2 separate regions of the Homo sapiens genome follow, and region 2 is linked to region 1. Evidence: fine-mapped expression QTL. Tissue or cell type: whole blood. Region 1 holds a variant in brackets; the other region holds the start of a gene. All regions are shown on one strand. Distances are from middle to middle.

Region 1 (2,919 bases):
AAAGATCACAAATAGGATAAATGGAAAATAATCCATACCTAGAGAAATAATAGTGAAACTGCAATGAATAAAAAGTATCTTAAAAACTGCTCAGTGGAAAAAGGATGGATTACCTCAAAAGGCCTCTGTCTTCTTAACAGTAACATTGGAAACAGAGCAATAGAAAAATATCCTCAAAATGTGGAAAGAAAATAACTCTTAACTGAAGATCCTCTACACAACAAATACTCTTCAAAAATGATAGCAAAATAAAGACATTAAAATAAAGATGGAGAGAATGTAACAGCAGCATAACCACACTAAGGAAGGAAAACACAAAAAGAGTTTTTGGGCAGAAGGAAAATAAGCCCTGCTGGAAGATTAAATTTTGGCAAGAAAATAAAAATTGTGAATATATGTATAGTATAACTAAATGAACACTTTCTGCATAAAATGATTATGATACTGCATTATATGGGATTTCAGTATGTATGTATGTTGGTGTTTAACAGAAATGTAATAAGACGGGGATAGATGTTCCAAAGTCCTTGCATTATCTCAGAAAATGGTGAAGGTTAATATTATACTTAGGACATAGTTTTAAGTCCTTGTTGCCTTAGATTAGGCAATCATTTCTTAGATATAACATCTAAAGCAGGGAGTCCCTAACCTCTGGGCCACGGACCCATACCAGTCCAAGGCCTGTTAGGAACCAGGCTGCACAGCAGGAGGTGAGTGGCTGTGAACAAAACTTCATCTGTATTTACAGCCACTCCCCATGGCACCCATTACTGCCTGATCGCCGCTTCCTGTCAGATCAGTGGTGGCAGCAGATTCTCATAGGAGTGTGAACCCTATTGTGAACTAGCATGTGAGGGATTTAGGTTGCTTGCTGCTTATGAGAATCTAATGCCTGATGATCTGTCACTGTTTCCCATCACCCCCAGATGGGGCTATCTAGTTGCAGGAAAACAAGCTCAGGGCTTCCACTGATTCCACATTATGGTGAGTTGAATAATTATTTCATGATATATTAGAATGTAATAATAGAAATAAAGTACACAATAAATGTAATTGCTTGCATTATCCAGAAACCATGCCCTCGCTCCAACCCCCCAGTCTGAAAAAACTGTTTACCACAAAACCAGGCTCTGGCACCAAAAAGTTTGGGAACCACTAATCTACAAAACACAAGCAATTCCCCACCCTTCAAAAGGAAAAATTTGACTTCACCAAAATTTGAAACTTTTGTGCTTCAAAGGACACTATCAAGAAAATGAAAAAACAACCCACAGAATGGGAGAAAATATTTTCAAATCATATATTTGCTAAGCCTTAATGTCCAAAATAAAGAACTCCTATCAACAATAAAAGGACAACCCACTTAAACAATAGGCCAAGGACTTGAATGCTTTGATCTAAGGAAGATATACAGAAGGCAAATAAGCACATGAAAAGATTTCAACATCATTCATCATGACGGAAATGGAAATCAAAACCATCATGGAATACCACTTCACACCCACTAGGATGGCTTTAATGAAAAACATGAACAGTAAGTGTTGAGGAGGATGTAGAGAAATTAGACTCTCCTACATTGCTGGTAGGTATGTGAAAGGATGCTGTGTTCCCTCAAAAAGTTAAACAAAATTGCCACATGACCCAGCAATTCCACTCTTGGCTCTTTACCCAAGAGAATGAAAAAATATGTTCACACAAAACTTGCACACAAATGAT[T/G]ACACAGCATTATTCATAATAGTGAAAAATGTCTGCCAACCAATGAATAAGCAAAGGGTGGTATATCTGCATGGTGGAATATTATTCAACCATAAAAGGAATGAAGTACTGATACATGTTACAACATGGACGGACCTTAAAAACATGCTGAGTGAAAGAAGCCAGACACAAAGGCTACAAAAAAGGCCATTTATATGACATATCCAGGATAGGCATCTTTATACAGACAGAAAGTAGATTCGTGGTTGCCGGGGGCTGGGGGAAGGGAAATACAGAATAACTGCTAATAGGGATGGAGTTTCTTTGTGGTGAGTTGAAAACATTCTGGAATTAAAAAGTGATCATGGTTGCACAACGTTGTGAATGTGATAAACACCAGTCAGTTATGCACTTTAAAGAATACATTTTGTAGTATGTAATTGTACCTCAAAAAATAAAGTGACAATCATATACACTCAAAGTAGCAATGCATATTACAGTTATTTAGCCTACATTTTGACAAATTCTGTGACAAGGTGGGAAAAATATATAGTCATTAGAGATGGGTATAGGTCTGGGTTCAAATCCAGTCCACCCCTTAATGGCTGTGTGTTCCTGGGAAAATCTCACTGAAATCAGTTTTCTCCTCTGCATAATGGAGATAATAGTTCACTTGAAGTTTGTGGTGAGGATAGCTGTAATGTGTAAAAAGATACTTGTAAAGATCCAGAACAGCTGGATCCTTTGAAATGACAAACCCAAACCAAAAAATATTTCAAAAAGACTGATATAATAGCTGACAATCTCTACAATAAGCTCATAAAATATTGAATTTATTTGTAAATATATGGTATTTGCAGAAAGAAAAGAAGTAGTGGTCTGAACATGGGAGATCTGGAGATCCTTCAAAAGAAAACTGAAGAGGCTGACTTAGACTTAAGTTCTTCAGGAAGAGAGACTGCGCTACTCACCTTCTTAGCCCCATTGCATTTTACTTCACCTGATATATGGACATGTTTCATACATGTTAATGAAAGAAGAAGAGTAATATTATACCTTGGAAAGTTGATTTCTAGGGTAGGTTTTTTGAAAATTTTTCAGATAGAGTATAAAGAGGGTAAAACTTCCAAACTAATGTGGGAGTGGATAATGCAATAATAAAAAGCAATCTAAAATAATAAGTGAAAAAGAAATGTAGCCAGTGAAGAGAAATAAAAGTACAAT
Region 2 (2,919 bases), 270 kb before region 1:
CAACATTTTGGGAGGCCGAGATGGGCGGATTGCTTGAGACGGGAGTTTGAGACCAGCCTGGGCAACATAAGGAGACCCTGTCTCTACTAAAAATACAAAAATTAGCTGGGTCTGATGACGCGAGCCTGTGGTCCCAGCTGCTCGGGTGGCTGGGGTGGGAAAATCGCTTGAGCCCGGGAGGCAAAGCTTCCAGTGATCTGAAATTGCGCCACTGCACTCCAGTCTGGTCGACAGTGAGACCCTGTCTCAAAAAAAAAAAAAAAAAAAAGAAAGAAGAAAAGAAAGAGAAAGAGAAAGGTGGCCTACGAAAAGAATGGTTGGATGCTTAGTAATGGGGGAAGCTTTATTATTTTTTCAATTATTTTTAAGACAGGAGGAGACAAATTCTGACAAGAATTGAGCTAATAGAAAGAGAGGGGTTAAAAATGCAAGAGGATATTGGATGGAGTTGGGATCCTGAGAAGGCAGGATCCAGTGGTTAAGTAAAAGGATTGCAGGATTGCGTTTAAGCCTGTGGATGGACACCTCTTTGCATTATTATAGGAAGAAGAAAAAGAGTGAATGGACGATGACGAAGTAGAGAAGTGTCTGAGGCTGCTACTTCTAGGAATAGCAGAATTCAAAGTTATCTGTTATGAGAATCAAATGAGTTAAAACATACAAAGTTTTAGCATGTAAAGTTAATACATAAAGTTTTATTTAGTTTATAATTTAGTGATTCGTAAAATTATTGAGCAAATTTAACTTATCACTGTTATATGATGATCGTGACATACTTAACTCATGTAGAAGACCAGGAATAACCTGTTTTAATTATGTTTCATTCATTTCAAACACAAGGTTATGGATTGGAAACACTCCTGTTCTTCTTTGTTGTTGTTGTTGTTGTTGTTGTTTTTAGAGACGGAGTCTCGCTTTGTCACCCAGGCTGGAGTGCAGTGGCGCGATCTCGGCTCACTACAACCCCCGCCTCCTGGGTTCAAGTGATTCTCCTGCCTCAGCCTCCGGAGTAGCTGGGATTACAGGCGTGCGCCACCATGCCCGGCTAATTTTTGTATTTTTAGTAGAGACAGGGTTTCACCATGTCAGCCAGGCTGATCTCAAACTCCTCACCTCAAGTAATCCGCCTGCCTCGGCCTCCCAAAGTGCTGGGATTACAGGCGTGAGCCACCGCGCCTGGCCTTCTGTTCTTCTTTGGATTGCTTTTCCTACAGTTTTTGTTTTCCTTAAGTTGGGGTTTCATTCTGTCGCCCGCTGGACTTTGATAACAGTAGGAATGTACATCTCAGACAAAATGCAGATGCCTAAAGTACATCTGAAAGATGATGTGAATAATTCCTGTAGTCTATGCAAATAAAGAAATAATTGCCCTTATTAAAGATTTCCTATAAGGTGAGTACTTTATTTCAGTAGCTCTTAACTTAGAAAGTTGGGAGCCTAGCTTGGTCCACAGGCGCCCAGGAGAGAGGGGCGGGAGGAAGGCTCTGCAGCCCGAGGGGGCGTGTGTAGGGGCGGGGCTGCGGGCGGAGGAGCGCGGACGCTCCGGGTATCGCGAGAGTTGGGCGGGCCGAGCAATCGCAGCAGTCTATTCCCTCACTCTCCCTGGAGGAGCCGCTGGCCCTGGACTCTCCAAATTCTGAGCTCTCATCATGGCGGCGGCGGCCGCGGCGGCCGTCGGGGGCCAGCAGCCGTCACAGCCCGAGCTGCCCGCGCCGGGGCTGGCCCTAGACAAGGCGGCCACCGCCGCGCACCTCAAGGCGGCCCTCAGCCGGCCGGACAACCGCGCAGGTGCTGAGGAGCTGCAGGCGCTGCTGGAGCGGGTGCTGAGCGCCGAGCGGCCGCTGGCCGCGGCTGCCGGCGGCGAGGACGCGGCGGCGGCCGGAGGCGGGGGCGGTCCGGGGGCGGCCGAGGAGGAGGCCCTGGAGTGGTGTAAGTGCCTTCTGGCGGGCGGCGGCGGCTACGACGAGTTCTGCGCGGCGGTGCGGGCCTACGATCCCGCGGCGCTCTGCGGCCTGGTCTGGACAGCCAACTTCGTGGCCTACCGCTGCCGGACGTGCGGCATCTCGCCCTGCATGTCGCTGTGCGCCGAGTGCTTCCACCAGGGCGACCACACCGGACACGACTTCAACATGTTCCGCAGCCAGGCCGGGGGCGCCTGCGACTGCGGGGACAGCAACGTGATGCGGGAGAGCGGGTGAGTGGAGCCCTCCCCGCGGGCGAGGCGACCCTGGGCCGGGGACGTCGCGGGAGGGCCTGGAGCGGAGCACTGGGAGCCCACTCTGAGCTGTCAAGGGGAGGGTGCGGGGGAGGGTGCAGCCACAGGGGGATGGAGGTGACTGAGCTGTCAGCGGTGGAAAGGGGGTGGGGAGGAGAAGGAGGGGAGAGGAGAGCGGAGAGCATGTTTAGGAAACCGGGCTGTGAATTTTGGGGAAGCCAGGGTGGGTAAATGATAGCGAGAAAAGAGCCAGTGTATGGGGTAGGAGGGGAGTGAGGGGAAATGATTTTTGGGGAAGCTCGTGTCGAGCTGTCAAGTGTGTACTTGTTGGGAAAGGCTGTAAAGCCTGGTTCTTGGGAAGAGACTTAGGTTGTGATTTGGATTGGCTGGGAGGGGATGTTATTGGGGACCGTATTGGCTCGCGGGATGATGAGAGCTGGGGAGGTGGTCTTGTACGTGCAGGGAAGGACGCTTGAGGAAAAGGTCTTCTGAACTGCCAGTGTGTCTGTCACTGTGAGAGAAGGAGCTCTTGAGGGTTGAGGGAGGAGGGAAGGGGAGGGGCCTGCATGAAAAGTGACTGTTGAGCTGTCAGTGGATTATTTGGTATGCTGGAATGACATTTAGAATTGGGCTACTGAGCAGTCAGTTACAGAATACCCTCCATACCAGGAGAACAAACAAAATACTGAGCGAACCAGGAATCA

The links. PIP is the estimated chance that this variant, and not a neighbour inherited with it, causes the effect.
Region 2: UBR3 starts here. The variant in region 1 is the best candidate, but not a certain one, in a credible set for the expression of UBR3 in whole blood (INTERVAL, PIP 0.65).

Annotation. Positions count from the first base shown.
Region 1 is chr2:170,090,918-170,093,836 of GRCh38, forward strand. No RefSeq gene overlaps it. Among named protein-coding and RNA genes, the nearest start is that of MYO3B, 86 kb to the right of the region's middle. RefSeq lists an enhancer at 478-1,045. The variant T/G (reference allele first, on the strand shown) is at 1,717.
Region 2 is chr2:169,825,859-169,828,777 of GRCh38, forward strand. UBR3 (ubiquitin protein ligase E3 component n-recognin 3) reads left to right here and starts at 1,596. Exons shown (of 39, transcript NM_172070.4): 1 at 1,596-2,194. The coding sequence starts at 1,650. RefSeq lists silencers at 1,390-1,949, 2,210-2,339.